Linked DNA regions of Homo sapiens. The protein of the gene in region 4 purifies or fractionates together with the protein of the main gene of each other region. This does not show direct contact. Each region holds a gene or a part of one and is shown on either strand. Other genes may lie near its edges.

What was found. Proteins that work in one complex are often made in the same cells at the same time.
Region 1: the proteins of MARCHF1 (region 4) and USP15 purify together in Homo sapiens (affinity purification with mass spectrometry, with the first as the bait; one large-scale study listed by BioGRID). This does not show direct contact.
Region 2: the proteins of MARCHF1 (region 4) and ASNS purify together in Homo sapiens (affinity purification with mass spectrometry, with the first as the bait; one large-scale study listed by BioGRID). This does not show direct contact.
Region 3: the proteins of MARCHF1 (region 4) and CSNK1G3 purify together in Homo sapiens (affinity purification with mass spectrometry; one large-scale study listed by BioGRID and IntAct). This does not show direct contact.

The regions. Positions count from the first base shown.
Region 1 is NC_000012.12:62,382,404-62,385,903, forward strand, and holds part of USP15 (ubiquitin carboxyl-terminal hydrolase 15), read left to right. Parts: intron 1-1,436; coding exon 1,437-1,595; intron 1,596-1,674; coding exon 1,675-1,899; intron 1,900-3,500. UniProt on the Homo sapiens protein: Hydrolase that removes conjugated ubiquitin from target proteins and regulates various pathways such as the TGF-beta receptor signaling, NF-kappa-B and RNF41/NRDP1-PRKN pathways.
Region 2 is NC_000007.14:97,855,409-97,858,908, forward strand, and holds part of ASNS (asparagine synthetase [glutamine-hydrolyzing]), read right to left. Parts: coding exon 3,446-3,500; intron 2,998-3,445; coding exon 2,870-2,997; intron 1,409-2,869; coding exon 1,282-1,408; intron 52-1,281; coding exon 1-51.
Region 3 is NC_000005.10:123,615,363-123,617,549, reverse strand, and holds the end of CSNK1G3 (casein kinase I isoform gamma-3), read right to left. Parts: 3' UTR 501-2,187; downstream 1-500. UniProt on the Homo sapiens protein: Serine/threonine-protein kinase. Casein kinases are operationally defined by their preferential utilization of acidic proteins such as caseins as substrates. It can phosphorylate a large number of proteins. Participates in Wnt signaling.
Region 4 is NC_000004.12:164,377,520-164,381,019, forward strand, and holds part of MARCHF1 (E3 ubiquitin-protein ligase MARCHF1), read right to left. Parts: intron 1-3,500. UniProt on the Homo sapiens protein: E3 ubiquitin-protein ligase that mediates ubiquitination of TFRC, CD86, FAS and MHC class II proteins, such as HLA-DR alpha and beta, and promotes their subsequent endocytosis and sorting to lysosomes via multivesicular bodies.

The DNA of each region.
Region 1 (3,500 bases), on a different chromosome or scaffold from region 4:
AGAGGACATCTACTGGACAACATTTTTTATTAGCTATATACTAGTTCTTAGAAAATAAAAAACCAGCAAATCAAAATGCCTCTGTATTGTCTTCCTTAACATTCTAAACTTTGGACAAACTAGTCCAGACAAACCATCTCTCAGCTCTTACTAGCATTCTAATTGGTTTTATTTTGGTAGATTTTCTCTCTTAAAATTATGTGTAAATAGGTTCTTTATGTGTGACTTTTTTTCTGTCAGATGATGATTCATACTATTACATTTATTTTCAGTCTCATCCAAAAACAAAAATACTTAGTGATGAAAGATTAGGAAAATTGAATATGAACATTAATGTTTCTGTTATCTCTGTGATACTCATCCTCCTTTTGCGCATAGAAACTAAGTGAGAGCCTAGAGTAGTTATCTTAAAAATGCTTTCAGATACGTAATTATCTTTATGTGGTAATATAGCAAGGATGAGAACCTGCCTCTTCCTGTCTACCTACCAGACATTTATAGGAGGAGGCAATAGGAATACCTAAAGCTAAGAATTAAGGACATCTGGAAAATCCTTTGACAAATAGTGAAACAACAATTAATGACAATGAAATCTATGACCAAACAAAGATCAATACATTTTTATATATTAAAGATTACATGTGTTGATCTATTTTGTCCCAGATAAGCTTTGTTGAGTGCTTACTAGGAATGCAAAACAAAATATAATTCATATATATTCCTGTTGTTCGTGTATACAATTTTTATTATTCACAGGAGTTATGTTCAATGAAGCTGCCACAAACACTGAAATAACAACTACTGAACCATTACTCCTAGGGAAACTATAGGGTTTGATTCCTCCAAGCCTTTGTTCACAACATTTTCGTCAACCAGACAATGTATAACTTTGTTTTGCATGTGTTTCTGTTTAAAAACAACTTGTTTAATATATATTGTTGAGTCCTTAACATTGAACTCACAGCAAACAGTGCTATAACTCATGTCTTAATGAAGCATATCTAACACATACTTTTTCTCCATAAAGCACATCACAGCTTTCTTGCATTTAGGAACACTAGCTGGCATGTTTGTACTTCATTTAGTGACCATTTTAAACACTGAAATTAACAACAAAACAAACAAAAATGTGAAAAAACATAACACTAAATAAACTACAAAGGACACTTGTTTATAGATTCAGAGCTGAAACAACAAGCCAAAGCATCACCTTGTTCAACCCCAGCTGGTAACATGCATATCAGGTGACTCAAATTTTTTGCCACTCTGAAAATATCTACAAATGACCATGAATTGATTTTGGGGTTACAAATACATTTTAGAAAGCAGGCAAATTCACAAATGTGGAATCCATGAATAATGAGAATCTATTGTACATATGTTTAAAAATCAACCCTGTTCCTAGAACTGATTTGATGGTTTTGCATTTCTTACAGACACAGGTAGGACGTTTTGCACCTCAGTTCTCTGGATATCAGCAGCAAGACTGTCAAGAACTGTTAGCTTTCCTATTAGATGGATTACATGAGGATTTGAATAGAATTAGGAAAAAACCATATATACAATTAAAAGATGCAGATGGAAGGCCAGATAAGGTAAATTTCATGATCCTATTGTCACCATTGTTATAATTTTGTGATACCTCTTTCTAATTTGTGTCTATTATCCTTGTAGGTGGTTGCCGAAGAAGCCTGGGAAAACCATTTAAAACGAAATGATTCTATCATAGTAGATATATTTCATGGCCTTTTCAAATCAACTTTAGTTTGTCCTGAGTGTGCTAAGATTTCAGTAACATTTGATCCTTTTTGTTACTTGACACTTCCATTGCCCATGAAAAAAGAACGCACCTTGGAAGTTTACTTAGTTAGAATGGATCCACTTACCAAACCTATGCAGGTAAATCATGGGTTGGTTTGTTTTGTTTTTTTTTTTTTTTTTTTGCATTTGTTATTTTTATTAAAAAATTAGTGTTGAGTCCTTATTATAAAAATTAAGTATTGAATTATCAAGCCCAATCAATAATGTTTATTTGTATAAGAGATTTTATAAGCTGAATACTTTGGAAATCAGTGTAACTTTTTACAGTCTTGAAAGAGCAACGTGTGTCTTATAAAAAATTCTCAAAAGGCTTTTTATAGAGGTTTATTTTTATAATATTGGGGTGAATATTAGCTTATGAAGATCAACATAATATTTTTAATTTTTTTAAACTTCAACTTTCTTTAGTGTTAATTGTAATTTTTTTTTACTAGTGGCTATTGGAAGTAAAGCTAATACTTTTAATTCATAGTGTGATAGTAGTGTATTTAAATACCTGTAATTTTTAGGCATTTTAGGAACTTAAAAGAAAGTAGAAATTCAGTTAGACTAAAAATATTTTGTTCAGTGATGTTCTCTAATTTCTAATACTTTGAAGTATCACATATTGTTTATTCTGTGCAAAAGTCCTGTGGTAAGTCTTACTGTCAAATTGTCTGCCTGATTCCGTTACCTAGTGTTATAATTGGATTATTTATATTTTGTGGGTAAAGCACTATCTTTTCTCCCTTATTTATTAATCAGTTAATCCTCTTCTGACACTTGACCCATCCCAGTGAAAGTAACTTCTTCTTTTTCTACCTCTCTTTCCCTAAATTCTAACACTTAACTAATTTTGTTATAACTTTTGGCTTACTTTTATCTTTTATCCCTAGACTACAAGTCTTTGAAGACAGAGACCTTGTAAACCTTTGTATTTCCAGCTTTTGTGGCTGGTAAATATTAATGCACAAGAAGTATTCAAAAATTTTATTCATCAAGATACTTAACTATGCACCTACTAAGTATAAAGCTCTTTGGCTAAACAAAAAAGATATGATTCCTGCTTTAGAAGATTGTTTTCTGTAAATTTTTAGCCAAATAGCTCAGTTTGTTAGTGCATAATAGTCACGATGTCTATATGAAAGCTATATTTGAACAAAATTATGATCTTACCATTCAGGGATGTATTTGGGTTTATTGTCAACAAAGACAGGGTATATGTAGTGTTCATAAACACACAGTCCTTTTATTCAAAGTAATTAAAGTCTAGTAGATACTAGGTATGTACTCAGTTATGCAAATTTAAGCAATTTGTTTTTCTGCTGCTTTATGTTTTCTTTATGAACTCATTGAACACAATGCCCTCATATCAGTATTTCACTGGAGAGTGCTAAGTACTATCCCTTATCTGTGAGCAGAGCCAATAAAGACCTGCTTTTACTTTTGGCCTGGGGAATATGTGTTCACATTTTTAAAGTTATATCCTTTAGATATTCACTTATTCACTCGTTTATAAGTACAAGATTGTCAACATTCTTTTCAATGGTGAGAAACTATAACAGTGCCAAACCACATCCTTACCTCTCTAGTTTATAACTTTGCAGATATACACCAATGAGTGTAATGGAGCAAGAGAGCGTAGAATAATAAGTATAAATTTACTGCAACAAAAAATAAATGTAGATGTTTTATTTCTC
Region 2 (3,500 bases), on a different chromosome or scaffold from region 4:
TCACCACGCTATCTGTGTTCTTCCGAATATACTTGGAAATTAAATACATACCTTAAATGAGAGAGAGAAATTAACTTTAATGTCAACATAACCTTCCACCAAAAATGCCTTTGATTTGATTTTTGGAAATAATTGAAAGCTTTACTACTATACTGGACTTCATATTAATATAAAGTAGTTTCCACAATAATGACCTTGTATTTATAAGCCATTTATATGTACTTAATCCAAAAGTACTACTGTAAAATAAAATAACCCGGAACCATTTTGTCATTTTCTAAACAGGTTTTAAAATTCTAATGTTTTTAGACCAAGAATGTCCACCTCAAAACTTTGCTAAGCTGAACAATGACTCAAATACCTAAAAATCATGCCTTTCATAGTGGTATTATGACACAAAAATAAGAATAACCGTTTTGGTGGTTTAGTGTTAATTTTGATGGGTATTTTCCCCCTGCCACTCCCCATTTACCAGATTTCACATAAAGCTGGGGAGACTATATAAGTTATTAAACTTGCCTCCTTGGTCCTGCACCACATCTCTCTAAACCAGTGTTTCTTCTCAACCTTGTTTTTATTATCACCTCAGCTAGAGAGCCTTTTTAGACACTTATTTTCCTAACCTCACCCCAGCCCCATGAAATTCCAATACCAGAGCTATCCTGTCTATCTGCTTATTTACTGTGATGTTTTGGAGGGCCATAAACCATTGTAATACCTAAGATATTTTTGCCTTCCAAGGCAAGTCTCTCAAGGGAGGCAGTAGCATATAAAGGCTCAATAACACTGGATCAGTCTGATTTGGGGTATACTTCCAATCTCAGTAGATACATTATCTACAAGATAAAATTAGTATTGTTTGCAGAGCAATGATAGCTAGTGACTGGTAAGTTGTGTGATGGAATATATCTAAAATGACTATTTCTTATCAAAAATGCATTACCAAAAAGACCTATTTCCTCACTGTATATAGACTGTAGCCCAAGAAACTATAAGAGAAATGGGAGGTAGAGGGCAGAAAATATGTATCTGCTCCCTGGGGAAACACCAACAGTGACACCAACAATGTGGAGGTTGAACTACGTATTTACTATTCCCTTCACTCCAAAAGAGATTCAGAGAATTCTTAAGTGGTCTTAAATAATCAGTAACATAGGGATTTAATTTGCATTCATCCTTAAATAACATTTTAAAACTATGGCTTGAAATAATTTTTTTAAACCTTACATTTTTTTCAGTATTAAAAAAAGCTTTTTATTTAAGAATATCATAATACCTTACCTACTGAAGCACGAACTGTTGTAATGTCATAAGTTTCCAAGGAAAATATGACTTCATCCAGAGCCTGAATGCCTTCCTCAGAGTTAAAAAGGACTTCATAATGTTCACTTCCAATATGATCTGCCACCTTATTATATAAAGAAATACCCATTTACTTGTTAAAGAAAATAACTTCCCTTGAAAATCAAACATGATGGGAGTTCACAAAGCTTTATGAATTAACAATGGTGAAAACTAAACAAGGGAAAAAAAGAAAAATGACTTTACAGCCCACCACATACAAGCCCCATCCAGCACTGTTCCCTCGCCTGCTTCAACTCCACCACCAGGAAGTAAGTCTCCCCTCAGCTCCTCTGGTGCCAAGGCTTCAACCATTCTCCCAGTTGGCACCTCCCTCTCTACCTATTTTACCTAACCCACCTCATCTCTCTCTAGTCCAACATGGTCCCACGCTAAGCTTGGTCTTTTTTGGTCCTTCTTAAATGCCTAATTTTATATCCAGGATGTTATTCTTATATAGAATGGCCCTTCCCCTCATTCTGCTTTCCTTGGCTATTTTGGATTCTCTCGGCATTGATTACCTTGCACTGAGACTGCTCTCTAGCTTTTTCTCATCCATGCTACGAAAGTCCTCCATAGTGGGAACTAGGTCTCCCGCTCACTGAATACAGACAAGCTGCCCTCTGCCCACAGTATTCTAAATACAGTACTTTCAAAAATAATAATAACAGCTAACACTCATTAAGTACTTACTACATGCTAAGTTCTACCCTACTTACTTTACATGAATTATATCATTTCACCTTAAAATTTCCCCATAGCAGACACTATTATTTTGGTTACATAAATGAGTAGAGCCAGGATTTCAAACCACAAGTCAGGTTCCAAAGTCTGCAGTCTTAGCCATGATACTATGCCTTTACGTTTAAAAAAAAAAAAAAAAAAAAACGAACAAAAAACCCGTTTTTTTAATTTTTCAAGATGGGGTCTTGCTACGTTGCCCAGCCTGGACTTGAACTCCTGAGCTCAGACCTCCCCCCACAGCCTCCCAAGTATCTGGGACTATAGGTGTGTGCCACTGCACCTGACTTATGCCTTTACTTTCTTTTTTTTTTGAGACAAGGTCTCACTCTGTCACCCAGGCTCCCATAAGGCTAAGACTACAGGCATGCGTCACCAAGCCTGGCTAGTTTTTGTATTTTTTTGTAGAGATGGAGTTTCATTATGTTGCTCAGGCTGGTTTCAAACTCCTGACCTCAGGTAATCTACCTCCCTCAGCCTCGTAAAGTGCTGGGATTACAGGTGTAGGCCACCATGCCCAGACACCTTTACTTTCAAAAGAGCATACTTATCATCATAGGGTCTTTGTGAGAATTGCATGGGTCATAACAGATAAAAGTACACAGAGGACAGTGTACAACACAGTGCATATCCAACAGCCATTTCATTCTATTTTAATACAATCAATTTAAAACAATTGACCCAGTCAATACAGCAGCAGTAGAATCACCCATTATTGACTCCATTTTCATTCTAATAACAAGTCTACTCTAACTACACTACACAAGGGACAGAGACAGCACCTTACCTTTCTAGCAGCCAGTAAATCGGGGCTGTCTTCCATGCCAATTGCAAATGTCTGGAGAGGATACTGTACTTGGGCTTCTTTCAGCTGCTTCAACAGAGTGGCAGCAACCAAGCTGGAGTCCAAGCCCCCTACATGCAAAAGAGGAAGTGGAAGTGTCCTAGTTATGTGCCTTGCATAAGACAGGGACAGAAGATGTATATTCCTGATAAACACCAAGATCATAGTTTTACTATTTAAAATCCGCCAAGTTTTATAAACTGAAATCAACTTCAACAAGAGAAAAATATATAAACTGTGATAATAGTAGTATTTGAATTGGTTAAAAATCACTACACAGAATTCTAAAGAACATTCACTGACTCACTCTTAACACCAATAACATAGCTATAGTGTAACTCAAGTTGGAGTATGACTATGACTATTAAATACAGCTTATAAAAAATCATTTCCATCCTATAATGAAGGAAAGAGTAAATCATACAGTAAATATTTTATAGTAAAAACCAAAGGGATGGCTACAAATCATTTCAATTAAACACACATGAAATATAATTAGGTTTTTTTAATTGACTTCACCTGATAAAAGGCAGCCAATCCTTCTGTCTGTCATCAAACGTTTCTTTACAGCATT
Region 3 (2,187 bases), on a different chromosome or scaffold from region 4:
TGAAGGCAGTCCTACCACTGAACTTTTCAGTTAAATGAAATAATGTACACTCTTATTGCTCAAGCCAGGTTAAATTCTGTCACTTTCAATTCAAAGAGTTCTGACTAATGCAACTATACATTCATTCAGACTGAAATCCCAATCTTAAAGTCGAATTTTTCTAAATAGAGCCTTTAACAGTTTTGTGTCATCTCCAGATCTTTCTCCTGCTTCTGAAGGTCTCTGCTGCTTAATGGACACAATATTCACAGGGTGAGAGAGGGCTGCTTTGCCTTTTCTTACCTGTAGCATCCCTCAGTAAGTAGCGTACCATTAATGCCATTTTGTAAAATCCCTTAAAGCACCTAGCACAATGATGAACTATGAGATACTGTTAGAAATATGGGCTCCCCATCTACAATGATTTTAAAGTCATTCACTTAAAACTGGAATAATGCTTAATTTCTGTGAACATAATAGTATGATTCCATTCTCAAAAAGGAAAAATGATGCTATTTCCCTTAATTTATCAGAAGATGTATTTAATTATTGCTCTATTAAACAGTTCAGAGAAGTATAATTTTTTTTATATTAAAGAAAGCTTAGATCCTTCCTAGTGTGTGCTTTTTACCACTGGATTTCAAGAAAGCAAAACAAAACATAAAATAACAAAAGCATATTCCTTTAGCTCTGCTTCTCATATATAACAGACTAAATAAACCAAATTTTTATAATTCCTATCTTAAATTAGGGAGTGACATTATTTTACCCATCTTTAGAGGAAATGGGAAAGAGCAAGTTTAAAAAAACTACTTTTATTTTTTTTTATTTCTTTTTCAGTTACATACTTTTAAACAGGGATGTGTTTCATTATTCAGACATTCAGGCAATGTTGACTTCATTAGTGTTGACAGAAAATAAGCATAAAAATGCAAAACATTGTTGGCTTAACCTGAACATACCTGCATTACCTATTATTGACCAGTTTGTGTTGCCAAAAGACTTATTCCTCGGCATTAAAATGGAGCACTTAAAAATATTGCTAAAAAGCAAATGCCTACACACTGGTCTTTGCAGCAAATAAGGGTATTTATACTTTTAAAATATTTTAAGTCCATAATTGGATTAATATACACACCTTCTTATGTATAAGGAGTTCAGATCATATAAACACTGTACAATCCAAAAAACCCTACTGAGAATAAAACTAAATAGGCTTATGATAAGAAATACAGATATTCGCATGTATTTACAAATATCATAGACACACAAGTTTGGTCAAATACTGTAAAGAAAGAAGAAGTGGTTTCACATTATAATGGCCAAAATGTTTATCTACCTTGCTCAAAGCAAATAAAAATATAAACTCAGTATGTAACTCCTGCAGTTTAAGACATCATGACAGTATACAGATAGATAGAAACTGTTGACCAAATTATACAGCAAATGTTTTGTAGGTTAAGTGTAGGTCTTTAAAATAAAAAAAAGATCATTCATAGGATTCATAGCAACAATGATAAACAATGTCCTGATTTGTGGTGTTCATGTGGGTGCCTAATTCATCAAAAAAAAATGCATTAAACTTTTGGCTAATAAGAAAAATAAATTACAAAGTACAATTAAATCCCTGTAAATGCAATAATGAAGTAAAAAAATGTAGCTTTACTTTAATATACATCTTAAATGTTACCTTGAGACAATAAAAATAAATAAGCATGCCTGGAGGCACACACTTAAAGACAACGAAGAGACTGCATGGGAGGAATAAGTAACAATTATATAAATGAAAGATGAATATGAGATTTATTCAAAATAATTATCTTTCTAGCCAGTCTTTGTTTTAACCCTTCTTGAAAATTTTGGCTAGTAGAATGTGACAAAACTACATGTGTGTCTTTATGGCTTAAAACAAAGCATACTTGAAAAGTGGAATGGGCTTCCTTTTTTACAGAATTTTTTGTTGTTGTTGTTGTTGTTCATATGCAGGCACTTCAAAAGACTATGGAGGCAAAGCACCTGACCCATCCTTTCCAAAATATTTTTCAATCATCAAAATTATGCTAAAGAGTAGGAAAATTCCAGAGAATCAGCAAAGTTGAATACAAGAGACTAATGTGCACAGAGGGCATAGAGTGACCCACTTTTTATTGCTGGGGGTCTTTTTTTTAATCAAAGAGCAAAATAATTACACAGACACCATTGCATGGC
Region 4 (3,500 bases):
GCTTATTTGTAAGTTAGAATGATTCGTTAACCATGGAGTTCTTGTGTTCAGAAAGGAGCCTTACTTTTTATGCACACACACACACACACACACACATACACACATGTGTCTGTGTCTGTATTTTTGGGTGTGTATTAGTCCTAAAAGAAACAAAAGTTTTACCAATTTATTATGTTTAGTTACCAATAACTTTAATCTATTGGCTATTTGAATTACTGGTCTTCACTGTCACAAAGATTTACCTCAAAATTTAAAAAACAGACAAACAGTCTCAATATAAAATGGCACATAGTATATTAATGGCTGTTTGATAGAACCTGCCTTCGTTTTATACCACTTCTAAAAATACGTTTGGAGTTAGCTGTATTGCGTAGGAGGCTGTGGGATGGGACTACTAACTCCAGTTTTACCATCAAGAAATGATCTTTGATCACTGTACATCTATGTTTATTATCAGTTAAAAATAATGACACATTTCAGCTGATGGTTTTGGTCAACAATAACTAGAAAAGCCAGATATAAGGACAGTATTCTGATAAAACCTGGTGGAGAGTTTCAGAAGAGGTCAAGACTAGAAGCTTCAAGATTACAGATGGAAGAAGTACCAAGGAGGTAATGTGACTTTTCACAATATGTTTTTTCCCCGGGATGAAGAGTGGGGGCAATTGCCAATCTGGAAAGACAGTGAGAGACTAAGAATACGGGCTTTGCCTGAGCAGAGGACCACTGATGTGAGACAAAGAATCTAGCAGAGATTTTGGCAGTCTTGAGGGACTGGAGAGACAAAATTAGCTATGAGGGGCCAAGAGCTCAGTGAGAAGTAAAAGGTGTAGCGCTCAGCTTGACACATACTTGATTTTACCTACATGAGATTTGCTAAAGCCTGAAGTTACACATATGAGTGGAGGCTAAGACACTGAGAAGGAAGCTTCTGGAAAGAAGAGCGGATTCTCAGGAGTCTTGTCCTGGCTTGTGTTGAGGGCCTGTGAATGCACCAGTAGAAGTTCAAGACATCTGGGCTGGGTGCGGTGGCTACGCCTTGGCATCTGGGAGCCCAGAAGTCTAACAACTTGTGAGTCAGCTCAGTCACTGGGTGGATTACAACTATGGGCTACCATCCCACCGTATCTGTCTAGCAGAGGAAATGTTGATACTTCTTTGGGGATGTATAGATCATCTGGAGCCTTTATAAGTTTGTTTTTTGTTTTTTGAGACAGAGTCTCACTCTGTCACCGAGGCTGGAGTGCAATGGCACGATCTTGGCTTGCTGCAACCTCTGCCTCCCAGGTTCTAGTGATTCTCCTGCCTCAGCCTCCCAAGTAGCTGGGATTACAGGCACCTGCCACCATGCCTGGCTAATTTTTTGTATTTTTAGTAGAGATGGGGTTTCACCATGTTGGCCAGGCTGGTCTCGAACTCCTGACCTCAGGTGATCCACCTGCCTAGGCCTCCCAAAGTGCTGGGATTACAGGCATGAGCCACTGCACCTGGCTGAGTCTTTATAATTTTTATATACAATAACTAAAATTAAGAGTAAAGATATGCTGAAAAGAGGCTCACGGCAATACAGCTGACATTAGCAGACTAAAACCTTAGAATAAGTTTGATTAATATGCTCCAAGTCATAGAAGAAAAGATGGAGAAAACAGATAAATTGGAATCTATAGAAAAAATCAAATGTACACTTGGAAATTTAAAAAAATACAATAATTACAGTAATAACCTGTGGATGAGCAGTATAACAGGCATGGTGTAGAAGGTTAGTAAACTGAAGAGAAGGTCAAAAGAATACTCAAACAAGCACAGAGAGAAAAAAAAAGTAGAAAATAGTAAAACAAGTACAGGGAGCATGTTGGGTACAGTGAAACCATCTATTAAACATGTAACTCAGATCTCAGGAAAACAGACACAATGAAGTAGAGCTATCTATGAGAAGATAATAGTCAAGAATTCACCAATGAATTTCACCTGATGAAAGATAACAATCCACAAATTCAAGAAGCTCTGCAAACTTGGAGGATAAATCCAAAAAACTTATACCTAGCAATATATAGAAAACTAAAGAAAATAATGGCAAATGAAAAATCATAAAATCACCCAGAGACAAAGACACATTTACCCTCATAGCAACAATATGACTGACAGGTTTGATGGAAGTGAGAAGTCAAAAGAATAACAAATGTTGGCCGGGCACAGTGGCTTATGCCTGTAATCTCAGCACTTTGGGAGGCTGAGGCAGGCAGATTGCTTGAGTCCAGGAGTTTTAGCATAGATGGTGAAACCCCATCTATGCTAAAAATACAAAAATTAGCCAGGCATGGTGCTAGTCAGGAGGCTGAGGGACGAGAACCACTTGAGGCAGAGGTTTCAGTAAGCAGTGATTGCGCCACTGCATTCCACCTGGGTGACAGAGTGAGGCTCTGTCTCAAAAATAAATAAATAAAAATAACAACATGTTGAAAAAAAAAAAACTGCCAAACAAAAATGCTATACTTAGCTTTAAAAATTACATCTATTTAAAAATATTTTCAGACATACAAAAACTGAGTGAATTTGTTGCCAGCACACTTGCAATAAAAATACATAACCACTTACTTCATAATTTTTATGAATAAATTATAAGTGCATTGACAAGAATGCCACAAATTTAACATACCAGATATTCTAAAACCACAATTACTTTTGCACCAACCTAATAAAATAGAATTCACACATTAGGTTCACCTCTATCAATTTACTTCTTTAACTGAAACTAATTAGAAATTTAAAGTGATTAAGTTCACTAATATATAATATTTGTCACAGTTCCTCCTGAATTTTCCAAATCATTTTTGTACACTAGTTCATTTGCTATGCACTGTCCCCCATGAGAAAGGCAAGGCAGATATTATCATCTTTATTTTATGTAAAATGAAACTAATGTTTACAGACTCCGACCCTTGTCCTCAAGTACATGACAAAGTCAAAAGTAGAACACATATTTCCTACCACTGTTCATCACTGAAACACTAGGAGGTAGAAATGAATTAATAGTATCATAGGGGAGTCATAAATTGCAAAATGAACCCAATATATAGCAAAGGGATAATCGTGGCTTCAGAGAATTTGTCTCAAATATTTTTATTTTATTTTTAAAGCTACATTAACAGCATTATTTTAACCCTCTAAATATTAGATCATCACACTCCTAAATATTTTCAGCAACACTATAACCGTTGACTTTCACTGTTGTATTTCCAGAAAAAGTTAGGATGCAAAAACCTTTCAGCCAAGGTTTTACTGACCAATTTCCCTATCAAAGGCCTACAGGAAAGTGAAAGCTACAATGTTTTGTGATCCATAAAACATCCTTAAGCTAGAATTTGAATTACACCATGAAAAAGCCCAGAAGACAACCTCTTCATTGAGTTTAAGACACAATTTTGCCTCAAGGTGGGTAAAGGACGTTTCGCTCTATCATAGAGGTCCTAAAGTATCTGTTAAATCACACAACTGGAACA